2 separate regions of the Homo sapiens genome follow, and region 1 is linked to region 2. Evidence: fine-mapped QTL for protein levels in blood plasma. A gene starts in region 2. The other region holds a variant in brackets. All regions are shown on one strand. Distances are from middle to middle. Region 1 overlaps ADAM23 (ADAM metallopeptidase domain 23). Region 2 holds the start of ADAM23 (ADAM metallopeptidase domain 23).

Evidence for each region. A credible set is the group of variants that fine-mapping cannot tell apart. PIP is the posterior inclusion probability: the model's chance that the variant is causal. Protein levels are from antibody-based Olink assays in UK Biobank. Linkage for the fine-mapping came from a reference panel and not from the study's own genotypes, which makes the PIPs less certain.
Region 1: its variant is the best candidate, but not a certain one, in a credible set for the plasma level of the ADAM23 protein (UK Biobank, PIP 0.86).

The regions. Positions count from the first base shown.
Region 1 is chr2:206,510,215-206,525,561 of GRCh38, reverse strand. All of the region lies in intron 3 of ADAM23 (ADAM metallopeptidase domain 23), which reads right to left. Among named protein-coding and RNA genes, the nearest start is that of ADAM23, 74 kb to the right of the region's middle. The variant G/A (reference allele first, on the strand shown) is at 8,718.
Region 2 is chr2:206,436,072-206,451,418 of GRCh38, reverse strand. ADAM23 (ADAM metallopeptidase domain 23) reads right to left here and starts at 7,887. Exons shown (of 26, transcript NM_003812.4): 1 at 7,339-7,887; 2 at 5,895-6,112. The coding sequence starts at 7,552. RefSeq lists a silencer at 7,313-7,442.

The DNA.
Region 1 (15,347 bases), 74 kb before region 2:
TGGAGTAATTCTGGTCAGAAAAGTTTAAGGGCAGGCTGATCAAAGAAAACAATTGTTCAGAACAAGACGACGTGGCTAACTGGGCCTTGGGCTATGAGGAAGGCTACTAGAAAAGATATACATTGGACCACAAAGGAAATCATTTTTTCTACATGACTTAAAATCATTTACTTCATTGTAAAAAGTGGTTGAACTACCAGTCTCTGGAAGTCCTTTCTAGTTTTAAAATCTGTATTCTCTGAAATTTTGTATTAAGCACTCAGTTTATTTCTAACTAGGAAATTGAGTGAGTTGCTGAGAACAAGCTTGTCTGAAGGAACCTAGAGGCCCACACAGCATTTCTTCACCAGCAGAACTAGGTAAAAAAAAGTCTAGATGAATAGTAGCAAGCACCAAGGCCTAACAACTGGATGGCCATATAATTTATCATCCAAACTAGGGCATTTGTGGAAATGAAAAGAGGCATATTAATAATTGTGCCAGGACAACAGACATACATAAACCAGGAAGGGCTATCCTGGGAAAACTGGGGCATATGGTCACCCTACCTAAAGGCCAAATTTAAGGTATACACATCGAGTTCTACATGGAAGGTCAGGTTGGTCTACAAGGTGGAAAATACTCAAAAGCTGAGATTCTAGTAAGCAAACAGTCTGTGAGTATGTCCTCTCCTCCAGTTGCTTTTGGGTTCTGTCATCATACTTCACATGGCCACTGATACAGTTTGGCTGTGTCCTCACCCAAATCTCATCTTGAATTGTAGCTCCCATAATTCCCACGTGTTGTGGGAGGGACCCAGTGGGAGATCACTGATTCATGGGAGGCAGTTTCCCTGATACTGTTCTCATGGTAGTGAGTAAGTCTCACGAGATCTGATGTTTTATAAGGGGAAACCCCTTTCACTTGACTCGCATTCTCTCTTGTCTGCCACCATGTAAGACATACCCTTCACCTTCCACCATGATTGTGGGGCCTCCCTAGCCAGGTGGAACTGTGAGTCCATTAAACCTCTTTTTCTTTATAAATTACCCAGTCTTGGGAATGTCTTTATTAGCAGAGTGAAAATGGACTAATACAGCCACTGTTTTAGGAAAGCCTTGAGTAGGTGCCTTAGGCTCTCTCAGTGCATAACATCAGTAGGTGGATCTGGGCAAGAGGAGTCAGCAGTGTAAGTTGTGGAAGTCAGGAAGCTATGAGATCACATTCACTGCAAGACACTGAACTTGTCAGGTGGTGACTAGCCATGCACCTTGCCATACATCTTTGTTCCTAAGTAAACAGTAGCACAAATACCCTAATTCAATTCTCAGTAGTAAAACATGTAAGTTACTTCCATATGTGTTCAAATTGGGACTGGAACAGAAGTTAAACAAACAGTAGAAAAATTAAATGATATCTAGAAAAGGAGTACCACAAATGCCCATATTTCTCATGCAAAGTCAGTCATCTGATTATCTGCTGCTTGAAAGTACTTAAGTTCTCAGTACTGGGAGCCCTAATCACACCTAAATGAGCGCTGACATTCATCCAAGAAGTCTCCTACCACCCCTTCCTTCCAGGTACACATTTCATTCATTTAATGACAACCAATGCTGTCACTGCGGAGACTCTCAACTTCATGGAGCCTCGAGCGTAGTGACATTGTTATGCCCAAGGCTCCATGAAGCCACAGTGAAGCATCGTGCCCGCTCCCTCTTTCCATTAGAAGCTTCTCTGTTTTGTCCTTTTATACACATAAGATATTTTAAATTCACTAGATAATTACTGTAAGTGGTAATGCAGACACAAAATTTAAACTCAATACATTCATATAAACATAAGCTTGTATCCTACAATTATGCTTGCTCTTATATTTCTTTTCTTTTTGTAACAGAAGACTTTAAAAGTATAACAATTTTTCAACCATTACTTTTCTAAAGTTTTAAAAAAAAAATAGACTCATACCACCTAAAATAGTTTTCATACCAAAAGTTGTTTCAGCTAAAAAATATACACTCCTTTGAGTGTAAACAATACAGTAAGAATTTTAAGCTACGTTAAAAGATCGAGGACATGGAGAGGCTGGGATTTAAGCATGTAGCAATGATATATTAAGTGGGTGAAAATAATTATAGGTTGCATAGAGGCTTTGCGTTAAGTCAGACAAAGATGGCATGCCCGGCAAGGGCTGGTAAGTGTGGGCACATTTCATAGGAACAGAACTGCAGGCAGAGAATGTTCCTAGCATGAATAGGTTATAGAGGTTTTTCTTTGGGGGTAACAAGAGAAATTTAATGATCTCCTAAACCATATGAGAGATTGCAGTGGAAATGTAAATGTGTAGGTACTCCTGCATCTCAGGTAATGGTCCCATTAGCCATAATAAAGTTTAGAAAACCCTAGTATAATGAGGACAGGAAACATAGGCAGGCCTGCAAGCTAATTGTAGAGTGGAGAAACAAAGAGTTAGGAGACTTGAGGTGATATAAAAGCTGAGAACCCTCACTCAGCTGGCTTGATCAGCCTAAAAGCCAGTGAGAGTTCCCTTCTGAGGAGGGTGGTATCAGAAGAAAAATCTTTAAATAAAAGATGAAAGATGTTTCGTTTCTTCCCCTTAACTTAAAGCTCGACCATATGAAGTGGATAACACATTTCTAGTTGTGGCTACCAGTGTCTCTCCAAGTTTCCAGTAATTTTGAGATTCCTTTATGACAGAATCATGGTTACTTTCACAATCTAGTTTTACCCCCGTATGTCATAAAACCAAAAAAAAAAAAATTAAACACAAGGAAAACTGGATCCAAATAAAAAAGGCCTATCTTCTGCACATAGTTACACATCACTGAAATGCTATGATGAACAAATTTCAAAGCTAATAATGAATGTAGTTGGTGACTATTGCTAATCCAGCTTCTTTTCTGATACATCCAATATTTATTAACATAACTATAAAGCAAGCATCACACATAGAGAAATTGCAGAGAACAGAAGAGGATCCATGATCAGCTTTGCCTTCTGGTAACCTTGTACAGAAGAAACTACTCTCTTCCAAGTCCAGTTTTTGCCACATTCTAGGAAAAGAACTCTTTTCATTTTTTTACTTTTTTCTTTACTTTTTTCATTTTTCATTCTATACAGAAAAACTGCACATCTGTTTATATGGTGTTCTATTCTTCCTAGGTATATATAAAATAGCCAAAAGAATAAAAAAGAAACCAACAGAAAAACTATCAGAAATAATAACAGTTAAGTAAGGTGACTGGTTACAAGATAAATATGCAAAAACAAAACACATTTCTAGATGTACAACCAACAAAAAACATCTAAAAATAATCTAGGGGGAAAAGTTTCTACTAACAACAACAAATTTTATATGTGTACAAATATAGTTGAATTTATTTATATATGTATAATGTACACAGAGATATATATATATGAATATACATACATATATATTTACATACATATATATAACCTATGAATAAACTTGGATTTAAATAAACATGAAGAATTATGTATACAACATGCAACTCATGAAAAAAAGAAAACAAGAAATATTCATGGTGATCAATCATACACCAACCTACAGCTGCACTAGCAATAAAATACCTGTGAATTAAAATAATGAAAGAGATCGTTTTCCCCCATCACTTTAGAAAATAAAAATGAATGACAGTAGCCACTGCTGGCAAGGATGTAGGAAAACTGGCATGCAGAGGGCAATTTGGCAATAGGTATCAAAAGCCCTGAAAGCATGTTCACCCTATAATCCACAAGTTCCACTCATAAGGGTTTCCTGAGGAAATGACTAGACAAAAAACAATACATGCATGATGTAGGTGAGAGCAGCTTTCAAGGCTTTCACACTTAGAAAGATGTTCACAACATCATTCAGTGAAAAGAAAAATAAAAGAATACTATGCTTGGCAACTTTTTAGAAGTATGTTTATATACATACATTCACATATAGAAAAATGTCTGAAAAGGTGTATACCAAATGTAGCAGTGAGCTACTGTTTCCTGCAGAACTTTCAAGAGTTTTTATTTTCTTTCTTTTGCTTAACTGTATTACCCAAAATTTTTACAATGAATGTATACTGCCATTTTAAGACGAAACCACAATACAAGCTATATTTTTAAAGGAAAAGAAGCATAGTTCCTTTAATAAAGGAATTATTTAATTAAGGACTAATTTCGAGTCCAGGAAACACCAGGAACCACAGACATTCACAATACCACCACCTACCATGCAGGGAGCAGCAGCTGACCAGGCTTTCCCTACATCCCCTAAACTCAATGAGACAGATGTTCCCTGAATATCAGCTGGTGGGAGTAGGTAAAGACAAAAAGAGAAACAAAATGCCTCTCACCGTCAAGGTGATTATAATCTCATTGCTAAAATAAGCCAAGGCAGCAGTTAGCCTACTACCATAAATAACAAACAAAGCATCAAGCAGCCCTCAAGGAGAAAATTAATTTCAATTAATATGATCAGGGAACCCTTTAGTGAAGAAGCAGGGCTTAGGCAGTCTCTACGATACAATTTGGACAGGGAAATATGGGCAGGAAAGAGAAGATCCTATAGACAGGGACCACTGTGTACAAATCCATGAAACAGGAAAAGGCAAAGAGGCCTATTCAGGGAAAAGCTAAAAGTCCAGTTGAGCTGGGGCATCAGTGATATGGGGCAATAGTGTTGAAAAGGTGGGTTTAGAAACAGTGATCCACAGGCTTAAGCAAGGGGTAGGACTTTCAAAGGAAAGGGAACTCTAGAACCAGAACTCAGAACTTGGAAGGCTATTTATAAAGGCTGAAAGCAAGCAGAAGCTGCAAAGACTTCAGGACCTGGGAAGGGCTGAACACAGATAAGATTCTTTTACTGGGTCAATTAGAGCCATCAGCAAAGTAATTAATGTTAGCAGCAGGAGAGAACGGCAAGAGACCAGCAAAGACATTAAGGAGCAGCCTCTCCACATATGAAAACCTGTGGCTTTAACTGTCCTCCACTCATTCAATTAACGGCCGAAGATACTGAGTGAGAGAAAAAAATAAGAAGAAGAGAATTAAAGAAATGATTAACAAAGATAAAGGTTTTTAACTAAATGTTGCCATTTCTTTAAATTCTTTCACTGTAAGTTATAGATGTTTGTCCTAAAATTTATTATGCAAATGCTAATGTGTACTTTGTAATTTTACACTGTTTTAATAAAGGAAGAGTAAGATTTTTGTAGAACTACTACTATTGTCTTTTGTGTGCTCTCTTCCTCTCTTTTTGTCCTACCTAGGAGAAGCCCAACTCTTGATTTCTCCTGCACCACCACAACCTGAGCCTGGAATATATCTACTGGCTGAACTGAGACAGGGGCCTCTGTAGAGCAAATCCCCAAGAGACAGACTGAGGGCATGTCTGCACAACCCTGTAAAGTAAAAGGCATTTGAAGTTGTCACCCTTGATTTCTCTGTACTATACAGAAAACAATATTCTGTGCAATCATGGTACCCTTCATACATATAACACAGGAATCTTTAGAGATGATAATCTTGCTCCTTTTTATTTTTTATTTTTTTGAGGCAGGCTCTTGCTCTGTTACCCAGGCTAGAAGGTGGTAGAAATATCACGACCCACAGCAGCCTCAACCTCCCAGGTTCAAGCAATTCTCCCACCTTGGCCTCCCAAGTAGCTGGGAACCACAGGCATGTGCCACCATGAGTGGCTTATCTTTTTTATTTTTTTGTAGAGATGGAGTCTCACTATCTTCCCCAGGCTGGTCTCCAACTCCTGGGCTCAAGCAATCCTCCCTTCTTGGCTTCCCAAAGTGCTGGTATTAGAAGAAATAGCCACCTTGCCAGGCTGGTTCTTCTTAAATAGTAGATATGTTTAAGTAATTGTCACAATGTAGCAATTAGAAACATACTTCTACAGTAATCTCAAACCAGTATGGTAGATAAGAACACAACCTACCAAGAAGAGAAAGAGAACAGAGAATTTTTAATGCTTTCTTCATGTGGGTACAAAACTACTATCATACAAAGTGGCAACTATTTTTTTAAGTTATCATTTAGAAAAATGACCTTCAAATAAGCCCACCTTCTGAGCACATTTCATAGCATCACAAAAATTGTTCACTGGGACTTCGATTGTTTAAAAAAAAGTCATGATTGTGCTTTGCTTACCTAAATCACAACTAATTTCTCTAACAAACAGAATTTTCATTCTTCTAAATTATGTACAATTTTAAAATAATAACAAGCTAAGATACCTCTGAAAATTACAGAATATATTGGAAAAACTATCAGTCATTTGTAGCTTCTTTGGAAAGGATAATTCTTCCAACTGGTGTGGACTTTCAGATTCAGTGTTGTTTATGAGCGTGCTAACCGGCCCTTTTTCACTGTGCTGTCATATCCTGTCACAGGGGAATGCCTGAACTAAACAGGCACCCAGGAGCTGACCATCTCTGAGATCTCAGAGAAGTAACTAACATTGTCCAACTAGTCTTCTCCCTTACAAAAACCAAGAATGTTGAATTATAGGGTCTCCAAGAAAACTTCTAAGTCTAAAAGAGTGAATATGAGTATGATTGTCATCATCTCCTACCTTAAATATACACCTAGGCTAAACTGGAAGTTGAGGACTATTAACACACACGTCTATTTGATATTTTCATCTATTTGATACATGCTTTGTCAAATAATCAGCTATTGCATACTGGGATGACTTCAGGCCCATCTTTTTCAGAAGGTGCTGAAAGAACAGTTCTATTCGTATTGCCTATATGCTGTAAAGAGCTGCTGAAATTTTCTTCTAATTCTACATATTTCTATGTACCTCAACAAAAAGACTGTACCCCAATTACCAAGATGTAAAGTGATACACTCTTTCTACAGATTAGATTGATAACAAAATTCCTTTACATAGAAATTCATCTGAGAGCTAATGATCAAGATCTGCTAAAGCCACAGTTGCATTAACACCAAACTATTTAAGTGGTCTGCTGAAAATCAGACAACACAATTAGAAAACCATCACTTAATTGTAATTAAAACAAATTTTAAAAACCTGAGAGTCATGCTAACATGTTTTTAATCACAAAGACACTAAAAAATAAATATACTGAAAATATAAGTACTCATCCAGCAAAATCTTATAATAAGCAAATTTGATGACAATTGATGTCACTTTGAAAGACATGTATAAAATAGTGATTAGAGGTGCATAATTTAATCTACTCCAGGCTAATTATAGAGTCTAGACATTTTGCATAATACTAAAACTGAATTTTTATCTTTTAACTATTATTAAGTATTTACACTCGATTCTCTAAATATATGTCCTGAAATCATTTTAAATAATTATGAGCACACACATTCCTTCTATCCTAATTAAATATAATGTGCCAGTAATAAAATCCAGTGGTAGTAGAAAAATGCAGAACAGATCTATAAATCAGAACTTTAAGACAATTTGTAAAAATGAGCATTTTTCCTGCAGCCAGACAACTTTCATTAAATGGTCTTAAATTTTCAGCCCATGTAGACTATCTTACTCACATTCACAAAGTGCCTTGCAGTGTTTGGATCAAAAGCAAAACCTTTGTAAGATTCCAGAAGCAGCCAAATCCCAAAGAGACTGACACAGAAAAAGAGAGAAACTATTCTATTTAGGTCTTTCAGAGGGACTATTTTTAATTTAATCTTAAAACCAGACATTTTTAGAACCCTGGTAGAAATGCTAGCATTAACTGTATATGGTCCATTATGGCGAATTTACTATCAGTATCAGTTCCAGGAACCAGAATGGTTAGGACTAGAGAAGATATGAGAAAAGTCCTAAATGAACTGATTCACATCCAGGAAAGCCACACCAAGGTTGGTAACTCATGACAGGGGTAGAAAAATGAAGTGGCCACTCCAGGAAAAATCCAGAAGCTTGTGGTCTAGCAGAGTCAAAATTCTGGGTCAAGAGAAATGCCTATAAAGGCTAGAGATCATACCAGCCTGTGGACACTAGAAAAGCAAACAAGACTCTCCAAAATAACCATCCCATAAAAAGGACAGGCACCACATTGCATCCACAGTTCTTGGTATAGCTGCCTACACAGAGTAGGCATTCTAACATTTGTTGATGAAGAGTCAACAAGTCAAGCAGCTCAGAAAAAAACAAGATGGCACACCATACTCAAGACAGGAATCCACAGGAACCTGAGGGTCCTAGAGGCAGGGCTTAGCCCCCAGGTAAGCAATGAGGGGTCTGAGGTAGCACACGGCAGTGGCAGCAAGAAAACTTTGAGACTCGGGCTACTTTCTGTCTCTATCTTTTGCAGATAAGTATCTGTGAAGGCAAAAGTCAATCCCAGGCAGTCAGCCCATGAAGACTGGGAATGTGAGGCTGAAAGAACAAAGGATGAGAGCAGACATGACTGCAAGATTACTTCAGGAACAGTCCTCTTTAGTATATTTCAAACAGAGCTTTACAAAGAAAGTGCATACGTGTGTTTAGGTGTATGTGTTGTGTGTACGAGCGTGTTTTTTTATTTTAGCAAGCTTACTATTATTTTATTTTTATTTATTTATTTATTATTATTTTAGCAAGCTTACTATTGTAAGACAAGGAAATGCTGCTGGTGTATGTCCACAATGATCAGGAGGAAATGAGGTCAGAAGAAGTTGTCTGCCCTCAAACTGCTAGGCCAAAATAGAAAATTTCCAATTATTCCTTATCAAACAAGGGTAGGTTG[G/A]GTGCCAGCTCACTGAATATTTGCATTATATGTACGTGAACTTTTCTTTTTACACTAGTTCTAATTTCAGTGACACAGCACGAATAGCTGAAATCCTTCAAGAGTGAACGTCTGTGCCCTCCCAAAATTCATATATTGAGGCCCTAACCCCCAATGTGATGGTACTAGGAGATGGGGCTTTTAGGAGGTAATTAGGTTTAGATGAGGGCAAAGGGGTGAAGTCCTCTCTTTTTTAAGAAGAGACCAAAGAACTTTGTCTCTCCCTCTCTCTCTCTACCATATGAAGACACAGCAAGAAGGTGGCTTGTCTATAAGCCAGGAAGAGGGTCTCTGCCAGCCACTAAATCTTGAGGTGCCTTGATCTTAGACTTCCTAGCCTCCAAAACTGTGAGAAATAAATGTTGTTTAAGCTTCCCAGTTGATGAAATTTTGCTATAGCAGCCTGAGCAGACTAAGACAAGCATTAATTCTCTCCTCAATCCTAAACAAATTATTCTTTTGTGGAATGTTAGAAAAAAAACGCATTTACATTATCTTTATTTTTTTCCTGAAAATTCTATTGTTACTATTTTTTATCACTACTTGGCTTTTTCTTTCTTTTTTTTTTTTTTAATAAAAATGCCCAAATCTTCCATGTAAGCTTCAGGATGAGAGGTTACCTTGGGTAGGAGTTGGGGTGGGGGAACGTGACTGAGAGGAACACAGAGAGCTTCTGAGACACAAGCAATGTTCTATTTCTCAACCTGGATGGTGGGTATATACGAATGTCCATTTTATTACTCTTCTTTAAACTGGGTGAATATATTTTCCACTCCTTTATGTGTACATTTCATAATTTTCATAAATTAGAGGAAAAGAAACCCAAAATGTTTACAGATAATAGAAAGAGAAGAGCCCAGCCCAATTCTGACATTAAAAATTTTGAGTATGAGACAAAATGAGCCAGAAACAGACCCAGGAAAAAGCCTCTGGAATTAGAAAGCTGTCACTACTAAGACCAGAACAGGAAAAAAAACTCTAAAGAACATGTGGGAGGTGAAAAGCACAGAGAGAACAAAAGGCAACTTTCTCCTTCTCTAAAAATAGCAAGCCTATTAGGCCACTTTTAGACTCCAGTCTAAAAGTGTTCACATAGGAGTCCATTTATATTAAAACAGTAAAACTTAGAAAGGAAAAAGTTCTTGGAGGATGCCAAAGCATGGAAAAGTTCAAAAATTTCACGAAATAATAGACCAGACAGGATTTGAACTATATCTGACTTTATTACCAAAATAGTGAACTATCAGACCAGAGAGCTGTAGGAGCAGAAGATTAAAGGGTAAGACAAACCAAATCCTTCCCCACACTGTTTTTTTCTATGGAAGGACACAGGAGCAAAGACTGTGTGTGGTGCAACATGGAGCAAATCTCATGGAGCAAATCTCATGGAGCGTGCCACCACAACAAAGCTGGTTTCAAAATAAAATGGCAAGGGAAATTATCCCGTGCCCTTCCCTGGAAGAATGTGCAAACTTATATTTAATTTTTAAAAAACAGATCTTGCTTTCAATCACCAAAACTGCCGTGGCTGGAAAATATCAATCTCAGTTGTTTCAATGATCACTAGAAAACATATTTCTGAGTTCATAATGACAATAAATGTCTTCCTTTTCTGACTCCCATATTCTCCTACTGTAATAAGAGATGTTTGTACACAGGAAGGTGAAATTCATGGATGATAACACCAACAGTGAATCTAAAGAAAAGCAAGACCTATGATCACGACTATACTGAGATACAGGCATACCTTGGGGATACTGCAGGATCTGTTCCAGACTACCACAATAAAGCAAGTATCACAATAAAGCAAGTTACACAATTTTTTGGTTCCCCAGTGTACATAAAAGGTAGGTTTACACTATACTGTACTCTAGTCTATTATGCATGTAATAGCATTATATCTAAAAATACTTTATTGCTAAAAAACGCTAATGATCACCTGAGCCCTTCAGCAAGTTGTAATCATTTTGCTGGTAGAGGGTCTTGTCTTGATGTTGATGGCTGCTGAACTGAGTGATCAGTGGTTGCTGAAGGCTAGAGTGGCTGTGCCAATTTATTGAAATAAGACAACAATGAAGTTTGTCTCATTGATTGACTCTTCATGAAAGATTTCTCTGTAGCATGTGATGCTGTGTGACAGCATTTTACCCGCAGCAGAACTTCTTTCAAAATTGGAGTCAATCCTCTCAAACTCTGCCCAACCAAGTTTATGTAATATTCTAAATCCTTTGCTGTCATTTCAACAATGTTCACAGCAACTTCACCAGCAGTAGATTCCATCTCATGAAACCACTTAAGTAACTCTTCATCCATTCAAGTCTTATCATGAGATTGCAGCAGTTCAGTCACATCTTCGGGCTCCACTTCTAGTTGTTCCTCTCTTACTGTCTTTCTACCACGTCTGCAGTGACTTCCTCCACTGAACTCTTGAACCCCTCAAAGTCATCCATGACGGTTGAAATCAACTTATTCCAAACTCCTGTAAATGTTTATATTTTCACCTCCTTCCATTAATTAGGAATGTTCTTAATGGAATCCAGAATGGTTAATCCTTTCCAGAAGGTTTTCTATTTACTTTGCCCAGACCCAATAGAGTAATCACGATCTATGGCAACTATCACTTTACAAAATGTAATACAAAATGTATTTCTGAAATAATAAGACTTGAAAGTTGAAATTACTCCTTGATTCATGGGCTTCAGAATGGATGTTGTGTTATCAGGCATAAAAACAACATTAACCTCGTACATCTCCATCAGCACTCTTTGGTGGCCAGGTGCATTGTCAATGAGCAGTAATATTTTAAAAAGGAATCTTTTTTTGTCCTGTGCCATAGGTCTCAACAGTGTGCTTAAAATATTCAGTAAACCATATTGTAAACAGATGTGCTGTCACCCAGGCTTTGTTGTTCCATTTATGGAGCACAGGCAGAACAGATTTCGCATAATTCTTAAGGGCTCTAGGATTTTCAGAATGCTAAATGAGCACTGGCTTCAACCTAAAGTCACAAGCTGCATTATCACCAAACAAGAGTCAGCCTGTTCTTTGCAGCGTCGAAGCCAGGTTTTGAGTTCTCCTCTCTAGTTAGGAAAGTCCTAGATGGAGTCTTCTTCCAATAGGAAGGCTGTTTCATCTACATTGAAAATCTGTTGTTTAGTGTAGCCACTTTTATTAATTATCTTAGCTAGATGTTCTGGATAACTTGCTTCAGCTTCTACATTAGCACTTGCTGCTTTACCTTGCACTTTTATGTTATGGAAACAGCTTCTTTCCTTAAATCTCATGAACCAAATTCTGCTAGCTTCAAACTTTTCTTCTGCAGCTTTTTCATCTCTCTCTGTCTTCATAAAATTGAGGGGAGATATGCTCTGGATTCAGCTTTCACTGAATGGAATGTTTTGGCTGGTTTGATCTTCTATCCAGAACATTAAAACTTTCTCCATATCAGCAACAAGGCTGTTTCACTTTCTTATCATTCCTGTGTTCACTGGAATAGCACATTTAATTTCCTTCAGAAACTTTTCCTTTGCATTCACAACTTTGCTAACTGACTCAAGAGGCCTCAGTTTCAACCTGTCTCAGCTTTCAACATGCCTTGAAACTATGCTTAGTAATTCCTACCTTTTAATTTCAAGTGAGAGACATGTGACTCTTCCTTTCACTTAAACACATAGAGGCCGGTATAAGGTTGTTAATTGACCTAATTTCAAAATTGTTGTGTTTCATGGAATAAGGAGGCCAGAGAGGGAGAGAGAAGGGGAATGGCCAGTCAGTGGAGAAGCCAGGACATACACATTTATCCATAAAGTTCACTGGATTCTATGGGTACAGTCTGTGGTACCCCCAAAACAACCATAATAGTAACATCAAACATCACTGATCACAGATCATAATAATTTAAATAATAATGAAAAAGTCTGAAATACTGCGAGAATTACCAAAATATGACACAGACAGAGAAGTGAGCATGCGCTGTTGGAAAAATGGTGCCAATAGACTTGCTCAATGCACGGCTCCCAAAAACCTTCAACTTGTTAGAAGCACAATATCTGCAAAGCACAATTAAGTGAAGAACATAAAACTAGGTATATCTGTGCACTCATTTTATATAGTTCAAGGCACTTCCAGATGCTTTTTGCTCAAAAAAAAAGTCTTTTTCAGAGTTTCTATTTTTTCATCAAAGACAATACGTTACATTGTTAGACTATTTAGAACATCCAATAATTCTAAAAAGGGTTATTCTAGGAATGTCTTCACATGCATGCTCAGAGGGTCAGATCAGTATTATAAATTGTTCTATTTTTATACAAAAGTTTTTAGATCTTGAGGCCATGTAACGGCACTCAATAGCCTTTTCAGCTGATTATAGTATCTAAAACCAGAGGACATTTTTGAAATAGCTAGCAATTTAAATACCCACACTAAACTGCAATTTAAAATCAGAAATGATGAGTGAAGTAATAGCATAATGAGGCTTTTTTCCTTTTTTCTGTGTCTCATGCCTGATCATTCTTACAATTCTTAACTAGAGAAGAATTTGAATTTGTTCGTCCTTTAAGAGGCTATTAAGCAGCTTGTTTAGAAAATTGAAAGTAATTCTAATTTTTAAACCCATAATCTCATGAAATAAGCATGTGGCTATCAGTTCTCTTTATCTCTTTTATGTGAATTCTAAGCATTACACCATTTCCTACAGTTACCTACATTTCACCACATATGTCATTGAAATTACCTTCTAAATATTCCAAATCCCAGTCATCTGCACCTAGTGTTGAATACCTCAGTGAATGTTCCTAGTTAACAGAACCTCATTCGTTACCTTGTCATCCAAGGCCACTGACACTGTAACATACCTAGGGAAATATGTAACAATCAAAATACTTCCAGGGAATGAAAATGTTTCCTTCCCTCTCATTTTCTGTCTTAGACTATCATTAATTTTTCCTTATTTGGATTCCTTGCACAGATAAGTTCCTCATAAATAGCAACAAAGGAATAAAAAAAGAGGAATAAAAAATTACTACACATTCCCTACAGAAAGAAATTAGTCCAATTTCAAGCTGCTAAAAACTACAAAGCTAAATACTGAGAAGTCTAAGCCAACACATGCATCCCCAGAATTTCAACAGGTCAGAGGACCTTCTAGGGGTGAAGTGAAGAAATGTGAAAGTTCAAACGCCTGCTTGCCACACAGAGCTCCAAGGAGGTTCTGCTATGAGCTCCACTGTCCTGATTATGCCCCTAGGGAGGGATGCACCCCTCCAAGGCAGAGAACAACAGACTGGTGAAGAGTGATCAAAACAACAAACTCCAAACAAGCTGTGGAACCCTGGCTCACTCTTCCCTCCCTGTCCCCACTGGCTCTCCTCCCCACACTCTGCTTCAGCAAATAGCTGTCCCCATGCATGGAAGAATCATAATGAGAAAGAAAAGAACACAGATAACCAGGAAGAAAAGAAAGAAGGAAAGTAGCAAACCGCAGGGGAGATGAAGGATATGCATCATAAGAAAACAGAGGAAATGTTCAAATACTCTGATCTCAAAGAAATTATAGAAAGAACCTCTTTTGTAAAAGGACTTCAAAGAGACATCATAAAAGAACATGAAAAGGCAGCTGGCAAAGCTCAGGAGAGAAAAAAATGAAATAAAAAATAAATAGTACAAGGGTGCAACCCAAATTAGAAAAAGGAAAAACAACGAAAATACAGTCAGGAATCAATGATAAAATGGTATAGAGATGATAGACAAAAAAGATAAAAGATACATCTTGTTGGTAGGTACTCCTAAATAAAACACATGGAAGAGAAAAAAATAGGTAAAAATATAACAGAACAGAACTTTCCTAAAATCAAAGAAAGACTTGAATTTGCAGCTCAAAAAACTATACCATGTTCCTGGAAAAACTGGTAAAACAATGAACATAAATAGTGTTAGTACACCTGGAAGTTACTGATAAAGAAAAATCATATGACCATCTAAGGCTGAAAAAGCGAGCTCTCTAAAAGGAAAAACTAGGTGGCCTCACACTCACTGAGCAAATCTCCAGCTTAAGCTGAGCCATTTCTATAAAGTCCCAGGGAAAGTATGATTCAAAATTTCATGTCCAGCCAAGTTATTCTTCAAACACTTCCCAACTGTTGAAGAACTCATGAAATACAACACTCAAAAGTCTTTCTCAGACAATCTGCTTTTTAATTAATTCCAGTCAAGCCAAACACAAATAATCCAGGAAGTATGGAGAAACCATGCTAAAAAGACCCATGATGGGCCCAGTTATTTTAAGTAAAGAATTGGTATTTATTGTGGTTACTAAACAAAACACAAATTTAATAAATCTTGGCAATGTAAAAAGAACATTATAACAGGTGAGAATGAAGTGAAAGAAGTCTTAGTATATAAATTTCTTCTCTTCTTAAATATACAATCTGAGGCATTTCTTTTTAAACGACTCCATACAAAGTTCTTCACAACTTTAGTAGGATTTTTTTAGCAAGTAATATGTTTTGTTATAAAGAAATACAGTATTTGTCTGATCTTCACCAATTCCTTTCATTTCATTTGTTTTTCTTTTAAATTTAATATTTATTAAGC
Region 2 (15,347 bases):
GAAACGCAAAAATTACCTGGGTGTGGTGGCACACACCTGTAGTCCTAGCTACATGGGAGGCTGAAGTGGGAGAACTGCTTGAACCCGAGAGGCAGAGACTGCAGTGAGCCAAGGTCGTGCCATTGCACTACAGCCTGGGCAACAGAGTGAGACTCTGTCTTTGAAGTTTCCTACACTTGAGTTTCCCCTTCTTGCACTCACCACCCAAATAACCTGCTACTACCCAAGCAAGTCAGGCCTTTGCACCTGGAGCCTCTCCTCTGCCGATTCTGTGGCTCTTCCTTTCTCCACCTTCTGCACAAACTTAACTCCTAATTACTCTTTAGGGCCAGCTCAATTGCTTCTTCCTCTATGAGGTTTTCTTTGACTTCCCTAGGCAACGGTTATTCTCTCCTTTGGATGCCTACAGCCTTCTGTTCCTTCCACTAGTAACTGCACTAACATAAACCACACATCAGCGGCTACCTTGATTCTGACACTCCACCAGTGAGCAAAGGTAGGGACAAAGTGTTAGTCTTCTTCGTTTTCCCCAGAGTCTAGCACAGCGCCTGATTCAAAAGAAGTATTCAATAAATGTCTGCTGAATCAAACAAAACTGAACACCTACTATGTGTAAATCTGATTTACTGGAAACTATTTGAGTAGAAAGACACATCTTGCTCCACCATAAAAATAACAAAAACTACCAGCTCTTGATTATCACAATCACATTAATGATGGGTAGCAGTGAGAGACATTATCTAAGAATTGTTGATACAGGCATTTTTGCTACTTTAGGTAGTGTAAGCATATAGTTAGTGTGACTTATGCAGTGCTAAAAACTCAAGACCAAAATTATCTCTCCTCAGTAGCAGTGAGGAGCACAGTGCCAAAAATACTTGAGTATTTTGAGGGTCCTTTTGAATTTTAGTTTGATTATAACATGAATTCCATGGGAACCCCTATACTCTAACATATAAGTGTTCAATCATCAATTCATTCCACAGAAGGCCTACTACATGCCAAGCATTACAAGTAAAATCATTACAAGCCTGAATTCTATATATTACAATTTTGTAATGACTGCTTAGGAAGACCTGGAAAACTTGGGAAGGCTGTTTAGATAAAGGCAGCTCTTTAGATAAAGTCTAGGCTTGCTAAAGAAACTTCCAGAAGGGAAATCTTTTCCCCATGTTCCACAGTATAAAACTTTCTATTGATTTTTAAAATTAATTCCTTATAATAAAGGTCATAAAAATTTATGTTCCAGAATTGTAAAAACGTGTGCTAACATCTCATGGCAGAGACAGGTGGGAGTCTTCATCCTATGTTCCTCTTTCTGTTGTCCCATACCAACAACAATGGAACAACTGGTTTCTGGAAAGTCAAGAAATGTGGAACCAGTCCTATCCTAAAATAGAGAAGGAAACAAAAATAATCACCAAGATCTAAATTCACTTAAACTTCTCTCTCTTCTCTCTTCAACCTGGGGTGGTAGGTAGTAGAGAAAGCAAAAGACTGAGCCACACAGGTCAACTAAAGTCAGCTTTCCCCAAGGTCCGGTGCTATGCATCGTGCATCTCCACAATCCCTTCCCAACCAGAAGAGACGAGAATCCTAAGGGAGCATGATATAGGACAAGTAGTTTTTTAGGGGGGTTTTTTGTTTGTTTGTTTTTTGAGACAGAGTCTCATTCTGTGGCCCAGGGTGGACTGCAGTGACGCTCACCGCAACCTCCGCCTCCCGGGATCAAGCGATTCTCATGCCTCAGTCTCCCGAGTAGCTGGGATTACAGGTGCGCACCACTGCGCCCGGCTAATTTTTGTATTTTTTTAGTAGAGATGGGGTTTCACCATATTGACCAGGCTGGTCTCAAACTCCTGACCTCAGGTGATCCAACCGCCTCAGCCTCCCAGAGTGCTGGGATTACAGGCATGAGCCACCACGCCCAGCAGGACAAGTAGTTTTTGACTAAAGTTTCAGGAAAAGCTTCCTTAACTCTCCTAGGAACAGACCACATAGGATTATCTCAGAATGAATGAATGAATCTAAAGTGTTTCTCCTGCTTTTAAAATGTATGGTCCATTTTATTAATATATTGCATTAATGGTTAATAAAATGCTTATATTTAGTAATCATACAATTCCATTTACGCCCATAAAAGTCTCCACAAGTGAAAACGATCGATCTTGATAACAAAGTAAGAGATATAAGAAAAAAGCAATGTTTTTTCCTTCTCTAGTCTCACACAACACTTAACCCAACACTTCTGACATCTGACGTATGGGAGGGTTTTCCCCACACACCAAGTAATTCTGCAGATTCTCCATCACATACCACCTCGATGTCCTCCAATTCAATTCTGACACTCTTAGCCTGGAGACAGCGTCAGATCCACTGGTTGAAGGCCTAGTCCCACAAGCCTACAAATGCCCACTTCAGATGCCAATCTCAAGCCCCAGATGGAGGCCTGTGCTCCTGACAGATCAGCTATAAACTAGGGTAGCCACAATTCCCTTAAATTAATTTGCTAGAGCGGTTCACAGAACTCAGGAAATACTTTACTTACACTTACCATTTACATAACAGATATTACAAAGAATACAGATGAAGAGCCAGATGGAAGAGACACATAGGGCGAGGATCTTCAATGCCCTCCCCAGGAACTCCACCCTCCAGGAAGTTCCACATGTTCAGCTATCCAAAAGTTTCCAGAACCCAGTCTTTTGGGTGTTTATGGATGCTTCCTTACATAGGCATGACTGATTAAATCACTGGCTATTGGTGATCAACTCAACCTTCTGCCTCTCTCTTTGGGGTTGTGGGGTGCAAATCCCAAACCTCTAATAATGTGCTGGTCTTTCTGGTGACCAGCTCCCATCCTGAAGCTATTTAGGGACCCCCAGCCACCCATCATCTCATTGGCATATGAAAGACACTCATCACTCTGGAGATTCCAACGGTCTTCGAAGCTGTGTACCAGGAAACAGGATAATTACCAAATACATTTCACAATATCACACAAAGCAAAATTAAATTTTTCCATTTCAGACCCTAATACTGCTACACGGCAGGAATCTGACTTCCTAGCTAGCAAGAAAGAATTTATAATAAATCATCAGAAAATAAAATTGTCTTTAAAGAATCTTGAATTTGAGTAAGCACCAAAAATCAAGGAATACAGCATTTGGATCCAAGGTGTCAAAACTCCCTGCCTGCTCTAGACTACCTTGGTTTATGCCTACTAACCTGGCATAATTATTAGGAGTGCCCACTTCTACTTTAAAAAATGGCACAGTTTGGACAACTGGTTATACATCACTCTATGCAGATAAAAAAGATTTTTCAACATTGTTTGACAAAGAAACATTAAGGCATTCAGAAACATTAGGATGCAAAGAGGTGGTTTGCACAATCTGCTTTTACACTCACCAATTCTGGAAGAGTTAATAAACATGTTAACTTTCACAGCTATAAAGTAATAAAGATTGATCAACATTGAACATTTACGAAATTTCTTCAGACATAAATGTGGAGCTTGGCCTTGCAACCTATATTTGGGAATTTCCATTTCCACCTCTACCCCCAGTCTAGGGATCCATGAGAAAGGCACAGTGATTCAGCATTTCTAAGGCTTTCATTAAAATGTGCTTCAGTGCAATGAAATCAGGAGAGGGAAAAAAAGGTACATAACACAGATATTAAAAACTTCTTTACATAAAAGCAGAAATGAAATTCTATACTTTCTTACTGAAACATTTCTAAAGCAGCAGAACTGGCAAGTGTCTCTCATCACTGTTATTAAGCAAGTCATCCTAAGATACAGCAGAAAGCAGATGGAACACTTTTTATCAACTACTTCAAGAGATGCTTAAAAACAGAAGTAAAAGGGAGGTCACAGAACACAAAGGGTAATTTCAAGGCACCCACCAAACAACAACACTGTCTATACCTGTACGGGAGCACTTTTAGAATCTTGCTTATCTCATTTTCCTGCCTCCTGGAGGATAGATCATGTCTTTTCATCCTTTTAACCTTTATCTCTTATCTTTGAATACTTAGCATACCGCTTGCATATGAGAAAGGTGCAACAAATGTTTATAGAGTTAAACTAATAAGAAAAATGCTTTCAAATACGATTTCTGTAGAAACATTCTTTTCAAAGTACAGTATAAAAGAAACCCAACTATTCCTCTAGGTAAGCGGTGGGTACAGGTTTAACAAACCTTATTATCACGGAAGTCAGGTATATTACAGTCAAACCACGTCCCACCAAAGAAAACAGCCACATAAGGTTAAACTATAAGGCAAGCATTAGTCATAGCCTCAAACATCTGAGTTATTAAAAAGTGCCACTGAAATTTCAAGTCTCTGCTGAGGAGGGCTTGAGCATTCTTTGAAACAGGCTTTGAGGCAGCTGTTTTTCCTTCCTCCAGCATCCTAAGCAAAGGTGCTGGAGTTTGAGAACTAACCACTTAACTCTAAAAGGTCTCATTCATAAGGAAAGCTATAAAAGCCTCAATGCATTTTATCAAAAGGGCCTTGGATTTCTCTTCTTTAAAGACAACACCCATTTCTCCTATCAATAAGACAAATGAGTTAGACATGACCTATTAGTCACCCCATTAAGTTATATAGGAGCTTATGGAGAAAAGGGCTGGCTGAGAACAGAGACACATTTATCTCACGGTGGGTAGCAGCCACTTCAAAATAATGTGAAAGAAAGTTCACCTCTCCAGTAATATTCAAGGTGAAGAAAGCACTTTCTCAGAGACCTAACTTGTAAAAAATAGTAAAAATTAAACATTCAGGTCACCTGAATTTTATATTAGCTGCTTTACAACATAGGAAAATCACCCAAAAGCCTTAAATTTCTAGCTCCCCATTTGTAAAATGGGGATAAATACTGTTACCACTCACCTATATTTTAGAAAACTAATAAAAAACAATGATGTAAACTGCAGATACTTTCTTAAATTCTAGATGTTTAGACAGTTAATTGCTAACTGTTGTTCTCACCTGAACAAGTACAGATCAAAATGAAACATTTAACATACAGACTCTATTTTCTGCTCCCGATAAACAACAGAAGAACCGATAATCCATTGTTTAAATCTGCTCGGGGTTCAAAATAATATTAATTCAAGTAAAGAATAGTAACACAGGGAAAAAGATCCCTTAAACTCTTTGGATATTAAACATTTGTCTTCTACTGATACCTTGGTAAATATCAGTTCCACTTTCTGAACTAACCTGAAAGTAAAGCAACTGCTCATAATCAATGCAGAGTAGGTACTGAAGAATTATGCCAATCAAAATTGGTCTTCATATTATGCAAATAATTTGTGTCTAGTCACCATAATCTTTTTAAATGTCAAATTGTTTACCTATTGAAAATACAACAGAAAATTTTTTTTTCCTCCTACTGATCAATTAAAGAAACAGACTGTTTAAACACTCAATTTCTAAGTGGAAAGACTGATGGAGACACTGCAGCCAAATAGCTTCTTGAAGCAATCTTGCATGTGCAGATTGAAAGCAGTTTTTATATCATGGGAGACAGTTTTATATCAAGGCAGAATACTGCACCCTTACATAAAGCCTCACAGAAACAAGTTAGAATCATAAACACATTCACTTAACTACTGTTCAGTGCCCAATGTACCTGAAAGATACATGGATATCATTTCAGGTATCAGAAAATTCTAGTTCCAGTTTAGTCAGAGAAGAGAAACAACAGTCTTATCCCAGTAGATCCCAAGTTAATTCCTTCCAGTTTCTCCCCTATCATAATATTAATTGCTTTCTTAATAAAATGCTGCAGTAAAATTTGTGAACTCAGATTCTGGCAGAAAATCAAATCAAAGGAAAACTCTTCATGATAGTTACTTTTGCATAGCCAGCCTCCTGCCTACCTTATTATGTTTTTGCTGGTGTCTTGCCTTTGTGTCAAGAACGTGATAAGGGCTTTCCGAGTCTTGGTTGATGTAATATATGAGTCTTGAAGGCAGTGTGATTTCTTTCTGCATTGCATTGCTGTAACTGATATTACTGCTGCTATTCTGTTGCAATGTATTGTCTTCATCTGCCAGGACTCCCAAATTTTTTTCTGCAGTTTCATTCCAATGCGGAGCTGGTGGAGGTAGGGGGGTGGGGGAGCAGAAAATACAAACATACACAAACACACACATATTTACCCCATAAATACATAAGCACTAAAATGCATTTTTCCTTTAATTTCAAACACAAAGTTTTCTATTTATAAGCAGTTAAGAAGTAGAGCTAGAGTAAAGCAAGTTATTTCAACAATAAAATGGCCTGGAGAAGTTAATAAATAGCCAATAAGGCTTATACAACTGTGCACTATTTATTTTGATTTATGTCTTATATATACATTTCTAGTCAGACTCAAATCTATACTTCTAAGTGTTGGGGGGGGGGTAGAATGAACTTGAGGGAAGAAGAGTCATTAAATGAACATGTTCAGGGGTCCTGCCCCCGATCTCCACCCCTTCTCTGAGTCCACAGAAGCACAACTCTACTCTGCCTAGTGGCATCCCATCCAAGAGCTAAGAACGCTCCTAAGATAACTTGAGTACTGAATTTATGGATACCGAATATTAATCGACTCTTTTAACAAAATGGACAATTCCCTTCTCTTTTAACTTTAAGATGAGCAAACATACTTTGCCATGTAGGGATACAGATGCTGGCAGCTTCCCAATTTCTTTTTATTTTCCTGACAAAGCCAGCTTTCTGCTTTCAGTGACTTCCAATCATCAATATATAGAAGATGGTATTATATTAATTGTTCATTATAATGACAAGCACTTTGAGAAATCAGAACCAAAGGTCGTGCATGAAGTATGTCTTCAGCACCTTAATTCTTTGGTCCCCGAAGTGTGCCTCCCCCACCTTAATTCCAACCGCACTGAATGCGCCGGATACGAAATTTGAGGAAACAGCCCATTACCACTATTATCACTACATCCTCCCCGCATTCACATTAAGGTTCCACCACGCAAGTAGCAACTTGCTCCCTCGCTGTATTTCCCATCCACTGGTTGCCCCTCCGCAAGTTGCACAGAGATCGCTGAGGGACCCAGGATCCACTAAACACCTCCCAGTGGAACCAACAAGAATTGGAATGGGTTTTTCGCGAATGCAACAGAAATGGACTTCCAAAAGTGAACTGGGATGAATGGGGGTTTGGGAACGAGAAGGGTGGAAAGACAGGCAGGGAGGGAAGGAAAGGCCGAGCCGGGGACAAGCCCGGAGCACACGGACCCGCGCGCCCTTCGCTTTCCTCTGCAGGGCCCCGCGGGAAAGCCAACGCAAAGGGCACGGGGCCATACCCACCGCTGGGCGCAGCAGCCCCCCAGGCGCGGGGCCGGGACGAGGCGGCGAGCGGAGGCAGCAGGAGAAGGACGAGAAGCAGGCGGCAGGGCGGCGTGCGGGCCGGGGCGCTGGCAGGCACCGAGCCGGCGGGGCCGCGTTGGGGGCCGCAGGAAGCGCCGGCAAGGCTGCAGCCCGCCAGGGGCGGCTGCCGCGAGCTGCTGCCGGGCGGCTTCATGGCTCATAGCTCCCGGGCGCCGCTCCGTGTGGCCGGCGAGAGCGCCGGGCTAGCTGCGGGGCGGCCGCGGGCGGAGCCGGTCACGCCGGCTCGGCGCGCATGGTGCCGCGGCGGGCAGGGGGCTCCGGGCTCGGGGCACGGGGCGCGGGGCTCGGGGCTGGGCGGCGCCCCCTTTCCCGGCTCGCCTAGCCTCGCAGCCACTCCCGGGGCGGGACGCAGAGGAGTCCAGGGGTCCTCGCCGCTCCGCCAACTTGGAGCCTCCCCAGCGGCTACTCCCTCCCCCGGCGGGCGCGGCCGCTTCAGCGACTGCGGGGGCTGCCGCCGGGCCTGAGGATGCTGAGGCGGCGCGCGGGAGCGAGCGGCGCGGGGACGCGCGGGAGCGAGCGGCGCGGGGACGCGCGGAGCGGGCGTGCGCCCCGCCCCCCGAGAGCGCGCCCGAGCGGGGCTTCGGGTGCTGATGCTGTTGCTGGATGCTGTGCTGCTGCTGTTGCCTGGCCCGGAACGCACTGCGCATGCTTTGTTGGGGGGCGGGGAAGGGGGTAAAGCAGCAGAGTGATGCAGCAGCCCAAGCAGCATCGGAGGTGACGGGTGGTACCTCAAAAGATGGGGGCGGTGGAGGGGGAGCCGGCAGTCACGGATAAGCCAGAAGAAAGAGAGTACGGGGGTTTCCAGGCCAGAGACAGGGATGATCGGGAGAAAACAACCAGCCGAAGTCCACCTGCCTTTTCCACCACCCCAGACTTCACATACCCTCTCCTATTCCAACCTCTTCCTGCTCTGGATAAACTAAGGCCACGCATCTCCTTCTTAATCCCTTATATATTTGCTTCCTGCATGTAAATATAAAGGATTGCAGCCGGGGAGGTAAAAATAGCGCGGCTCCTCATTCAGATTGCCAGCAGCGGGTGGGACTGCGGCTGAGAAGAGCGTTTGCGCCGCAGGCTGGCGCGGAGTGGCAGGAATCCCCCGCGCAGGGGCGCTCTGCCCCGGCCTGTGTCCTCCCTGCCGGTGCCTGGGGTCTTTGAGGAAAGCACAAGAAGCCGGACGGTGTTTGCTCAAAAGTTCAGAAAGTATGACTGGGCATATTCGGGAAGGACTTCGACATTCTGGCGGGGAAGCAATACAGAGATTAGAAACCAAGTGTGTGGCAGCTATCTTGGGAAATCCGTTGTTTGTCAACCACGGGGATGGGCACACATTTAGGAGGACACATTTCTATTTTTGAGATCCAGTCCTGACTTCTGCAGAGGAAAGGGGAAGTTTTCTCTCGTTGCTGTAAAAAATGTAAATCCCTGACTTCGGTGGGTTCGCAGCCACTAAATCTGATGGCTTCAGATAAGAGTCTGTGGCATATTTCTGCCCCCAAACTCTCATAATGCAAGCATTCATTTATTCACCCTCCCAATGACAATCTGAGTGATAACAATGTTGTCTTACTCCGACATCCACGGGGTGAGGGCTGGGGTGGAGAATTCCATGATTAAAAGAAAGAATGTGGGTATAAAAGTGCCATGGCCATGACAGAACTCAGTGTTAGCCATCATCTTCTCCACTCACACTTAACAAAGAGAAAAGAAGAAGACATATACGCGCGCGCACACACACATTACAAAACTGTTAGGTAAATACTGAGATAACTTCCTTTCTATGTTGAGCTAGGATATTATTATCACATATTTATTCCTGTAAATTTGTAATTGTTGCTACCTCCCCCATGTGAGGGCAACAACAGTTTTCCCTTCTGCACACCATTGTGTCCCTAGGACCTCACACAGTGTCTGAGGCACAGAGAAATCGCTTGGAAAATATGTACTAAATGAATAAAGAAATGGGTGATACACACAAGCAGAAGTCACACTTGGGGCAGGCTAGTGAACACTCTAGCCCCACCGGAGTGCCCACTGCAGGTCAATGTTCTTAGGGTTGTCTCCCTCAAGTCAAGTATTCTCTGGCTAGGTTTTCCAAATTTATATTTGACACAATATGCATCCTGAAAAAGGGCCTGAGAGAAAGCAAGCCAGAAAGGAGATGTACAAGCAATGAGAAGGGAGAGGGAAATGAAAGGTGCAAAGCACCCAGATGCAAGTTACTTGAAAGGCATCTCTTGCAATTCAGTGACAACCTCTTAAAGTCTGTTCTGATAAATAAACCTATCAGCCAACCTGGACTGACCAAACCCACCCACCAGTTACAACACATCATTTCATGCACTTGGGGTATGGAATGAGGATTCAATATAGTTTCTTTTTTTCTTTTTTTTTTTTTTTTTTTGAGATGGTGTCTTGCTGTGTCACCCAGGCTGGAATGCAGTAGTGCGATCTCAGCTCACTGCAACCTCTGCCTCCCAGGTTCAAGCGATTCTCCTGCCTCAGCCTCCCAAGTAGCTGGGATTAGCTGGGATTACAGGCACGTGCCACTACACCCGGCTAATTTTTGTAGTTTTAGTAGAGACGGGGTTTCACCATGTTGGCCAGGCTGTTCTCAAACTCCTGACCTCAGGTGATCCACCCACCTCAGCTTCCCAAAGTGCTGGGATTACAGGCGTGATCCACCGCACCTGGCCTCAATATAGTTTCTAATAAGGGGTTGGGGTATTTACAAAGAGGGATGTTGTCTTATGTACTATAGTCAAAAGACTGCATTTATTTACAGAACTTTAATGGTTACAGACATTGCTAGAGTCAAAATAAGATATCAATAAATGAAATAATGAGTCAGAGAAAGAGTACATTACTTAGAAAAAATTTACTGGAAGTTTAGTCTTTAAGCCATATATTTAAGGGAAGGTTAAAAACAGAATCAAATATTAACTGATTAAATAATTTAATTGGTCAACTTGGTAGAGTTAGTAATATTCTTATTAGGTAGTTCAGAATTTTTATTTTTATAGAGTTTACTTCTAAATATTCCCCTCTGTGCTTTCATAAGATTTAGTGACTTGCTTAATCACTTGCCACCTACTGCTTTGCTCTGTATTCGTGTATGTGCATATCATCATTCTTCCATCAAAAAATACTGAGAGCAAGGCTGTATCTTGGTCATCTCTGACTCCACAGCCTAGTATAGTACCTGGAATCAAATCAGCATTCATAGAGGGGCACTCACAGGTAGGAAACAGAGGGATTCAGCAAGATGGACTGGAATAAAGAAATATACCAGAAGCTTGAGTGCTATAATGGCCCTGGTTACCAATGTGTGTTGGATCCTAAGGCCATCAGAGGATCACTGGAGTGATCTAGTCACAGTGGCAGACATGGAGAAATGCTGCAGTCGTAGGTGAAGGCAGGTGGCCAGAAGGTCCATGGGAAGGAAATTACACCAGGCAATATGGACCCTAGGTAAGCACCATGAGGGGTGCATGTGAGCAATACCCAGGAAGGGTCGTCATACTGTTCACAAAAATGGTCCATTGGTCTGGTGAGGGAGGAGATCAGAAGGTCTCTATTTGCCAAAATCTGTTTCCAGTGGTAGAACTGGACCCACTTTGCAACCAGTGAGAAGACTGGGTCTGGACAGGAGCAAGCAAAGGACAGAAATAGAAATATTAGATGTAGCAGGCCTTGGCCTCAAGAGGGCTGAGATGCTAGGGGAGAAAGTAGAAGAAGGGGATGACAGAAGAGAGGTCCAGAGGGTAAAATAAGTAAAAAAGCAGGGGAAGGTAGCAAAGCAGACTTACAAGAGCAATTGGAATGGAATAAGCATTTGCCCAAAAAGTCAAGGTCAAAGAAGGTGTGCAGCAAATTAGTGGATGGTGCTGATACTAAGAGAGATCTAGGGAGTGAAAGCAAGAGCATGAACAAGCCTCAAACAGCAGCTCTGGCTCAAGAGCAGCTTATACCCAGGAGCTCGCTGGGACAGCCTGTGTTACAGAGCCAGCTAGAGAAGGTTTCTCAGCCTCCTTTTAGAATAGCTGTGAAGACTGATTTTACCAGCGGAAGTGGATACTTCAAAGGAGAAAAGACAATGCATTTCTTCATGAAAGTAAAAAGCGAGTGTGCTTCGTTATTGGTACTTGCCACGTGGTTCAGGAGTCAGCAAACATTTTCTGTACAAGGCCAGATAATAAACATTTTGGGTTTTGTGGGCCATATGGTCTCTGCTGCATTTTTTTTTCTTTACAAACCTCTAAGAATGTGAAAACCATGCAGCCTACAGGACCTGGTTTGTCAGCTAGCCATTTTTAAATCTCTCTCTCTCTCTCTCTCTCTCTCTCTCTCTCTCTATATATATATATATATATATATATATTTACCTTAAATATATATACCTTATAATATATACTATATATATACACCTTAAATATATATATATGTAAGGTTAAATTTTTTTCATCAACTGTATTATGTCCTGTGCATATAAGCAGAAAAAGCGAAGGAAGCGTGTGCCACAATATAGAGGGCTCTAATTCTAGAAAAGATTGCTCTCCATTGTAATTTAGATAGTTGTTTAATCAGTAAGTAGTCACTAAATTCTCAAAAGATGTTCATCATTTGAAGGGATCCCTTAGGAAAGAAGTATTTCTCCTTTTGAAGCCAATTCTCAGATGATGATAATGGGAGAAAAGTCAGAAATCATTCACCAAAAAAAAAAATACAGATGTCAAAAAGATTCTAGACATTTCTTTTGTTTTTCCAAGCTATACTTTCTTGTGAGTAGGGGATGCTGAATGGATGCTACAGCCATGAGTGGTCAGAGAATGGAGTAATACATGCACTCTAGTCCTTCCCAGAGCCTGTCACCATCTGGGATCTGCCTGTGTTCCTCAAACTCAATCCTGTAGAGCGGCCATGCGGCAGGGGATACACACTCCTGACACAGAGCCACACCCCATGTCACAGGCAACCTTCAAGTTCATGAAAATTAGTCTGCAAGTCTGCAGGTCTGTGTTAATTACACCACTGCTCATTCTGAAGACCAGGACAAAGTGGGACAATTTCAAAAGTCACTGTGTGACTAATTTCAACACGACTGGGAAAAGAAAAAGTATTCAATACCAAAAGACCAATGGCAACGGACATTTCTAGGGGAGTAGTGGAACAGACAAAAATGTGTTACAATGTCGAGCATGAAAATATCCGAAGAAAGGTAACCACAGAAGAAACCTAAAATTGAGTTCTTAAAGGAAATTATGTTAAAAGGAGTTTAATTAGGAATTCAGATAGTATAAGATAAATTTGAAAACAGTTGATTTTCCCCCACTCTAAAACATTAGGTTTGTTTATCTAACAGTTTTGTGTGTTTACAAGCTGGGCACAAAGGGATACATGAGCATGTCATGGTGATTCGTGGTGATAATATGTGCTCTGCAAAACTTGGAAGAATTGTGTTTATTAAGAATAATCGCTGAGTCAACACATAATCATTAAGTCCTCACTGGGTCACAGAGCAGCACTAGGAGTTTCTACAGAAGTAAATTACCACGTCCTACTGGGGGTGGGAGTGGGGGCTAAACTATAGCAGCTGAATTGCATATGAAAAGGTTAGAACCCCAGCAGACAGAATTAATATGCTAATGTAATCCCATCCGCTTGCATAATAGCAATGGCTAAGTCCTTTAACAATGCCTGCTTTAATTATTACTGTGCACTTACACACTGCAAAGTGCTTTTGTCTATATTATTTTACGTGATCCTCAACATTGTGACACAGGGCAGTTACTGTTATTGTTTTTAGGAGCCCCACCTTAGAGGTAAGAGTGCTAAGATTCACAGCTCTTTGCAGGGATCCTCGATCCCTGCACATTCAAATCACCTAGAGAGCTTTTTTAAAAACACTTTTATACATTGTAGGTGTACAATGTGATGCTTTGATATACATAGTAAAATGATTACTACAGTCAAGCAGATTGACATATTCGTCACTCACATAGCTACCCATTTTTAGTATACAATACAATATGAATAGCTGTAGTCCTCATGCTGTACATTAGCTCTCTAGACTTAGTCATCCTACACAACTGCAACTCTGTACCTTTTGACTACATCTCCCCTAAGTCTCCCTCCCATCCTGCCCTCTGCTGCCCTCCACCCTTGGTAGCCACAATTCTAGCCTCTGTTTCTATAAATTCAACCTTTATTTTTTAGATCCCACATATCAGCGAGATCACACAGTATTTTTCTTTCTGTGTCTGACTTATTTTATTTGGCATAATGACCTTCAGATTCATCCCTGTTGTCACAAATGGCAGGATGGCCTTGCTTTTTGATGCTGATTAAAATTTCGTTGTATAACTGATTTGATCTTTGCAAATTATATGAATGTATTAAATGATCCCATGTACCCTGAAACTACATGCCTCTATTATGCAGCAATTAAGAAAGAAAAAAATTACATACATACACAATTATAATTTCTTTATCCAATCATCCACTGACAGACACCTCAGTTGTTTCTATATCTCAGCAATTGTGAATAATGCTGCAATGACCACGGGAGAGTGCAGATATTACTACAAGGTGATGATTTCACTTTGTTTGGGTATATAACCAGAAGAGGTATTGCTGGGTCATATGGTTGTTCTCTTTTTTTCTCTCTCTTTTTTTTTTTTTTTTTTTTTTGAGATGGAGATTCACTCTTGTTGCCCAGGCTGGAGTGCAATGGCACGATCTTGGCTCACTACAACCTCTGCCTCCCAGGTTCAAGTGATTCTCCTGCCTCAGCCTCCTGAGTAGCTGGGATTACCGGCATGTGCCACCACTCCTGGCTAATTTTGTATTTTTAGTAGAGACAGGGTTTCTCCATGTTGGTCAGGTTGGTCTTGAACTCCCGACCTCAGGTGATCCACCAGTCTCAGCCTCCCAAAGTGCTGGGATTACAGGCGTGAGCCACCGCACCCGGCTGGTTGTTCTCTTTTTAATTTCTTTAAGAACTTCCATGCTGTATTCCACAATGGCTGCACTAATCTATTTGGTTGGTGCAGAAGTGCCATTAAAAGTAATGGTGCCGGCCGGGCGCGGTGGCTCACGCCTATAATCCCAGCACCTTGGAAGGCCGAGGCAGGCGGATCACGAGGTCAGGAGATAGAGACCATCCTGGCTAACACGGTGAAACTCCATCTCTACTAAAAATACAAAAAATTAGCCAGGCGTGGTGGTGGGCACCTGTAGTCCCAGCTACTCAGGAGGCTGAGGCAGGAGAATGGCATGAACCCGGGAGGCAGAGCTTGCAGTGAGCCGAGATCACACCACTGCACTCCAGCCTGGGTGACAGAGCGAGACTCTGTCTCAAAAAAAAAAGTAATGGTGCCATTAAACGTAATGGCAAAAACCACAATTACTTTTGCACCAACTTAATACATTCTCACCGATGGTGTACAAGAGTTCCCTTTCTCCACACCCTCACCAACATTTATCTCTTGTCTTTTTGATAGTAGCCATCCTAACAGATGTGAGGTGATATTTCATTTTGAATTTATTTTGCACATAGAGAGCTCTGATACTCTACCAATTCCTGAGTGTTTAGGATTTTCAAGACTAGGGCTCAACATCAGTGTTTTCTAAAATCCTCCCAGATTAATAAAATGTGCAACCACAGTTAAGACACACTGGGTAACAAGATTTCCTTGAGGTTACGTAGCTGCTCAGCATCAGAACTGGAATTCAAACCCTGAATTGGAATCCTGTGCTGTTCCCAAGTTTTTCTTTCCTATTTCTGCTTTTATCACAAGTTAACCTTGGATAAAGAAAGATAGAAAACAAGTTTAATATAATTGCTGGAGGACCTAAAAAAATATAGAATTAGAAAATATTTGAGCCAGAAGTTATCTCTGAGATCATCTAGGAGTCCAAACTCATTG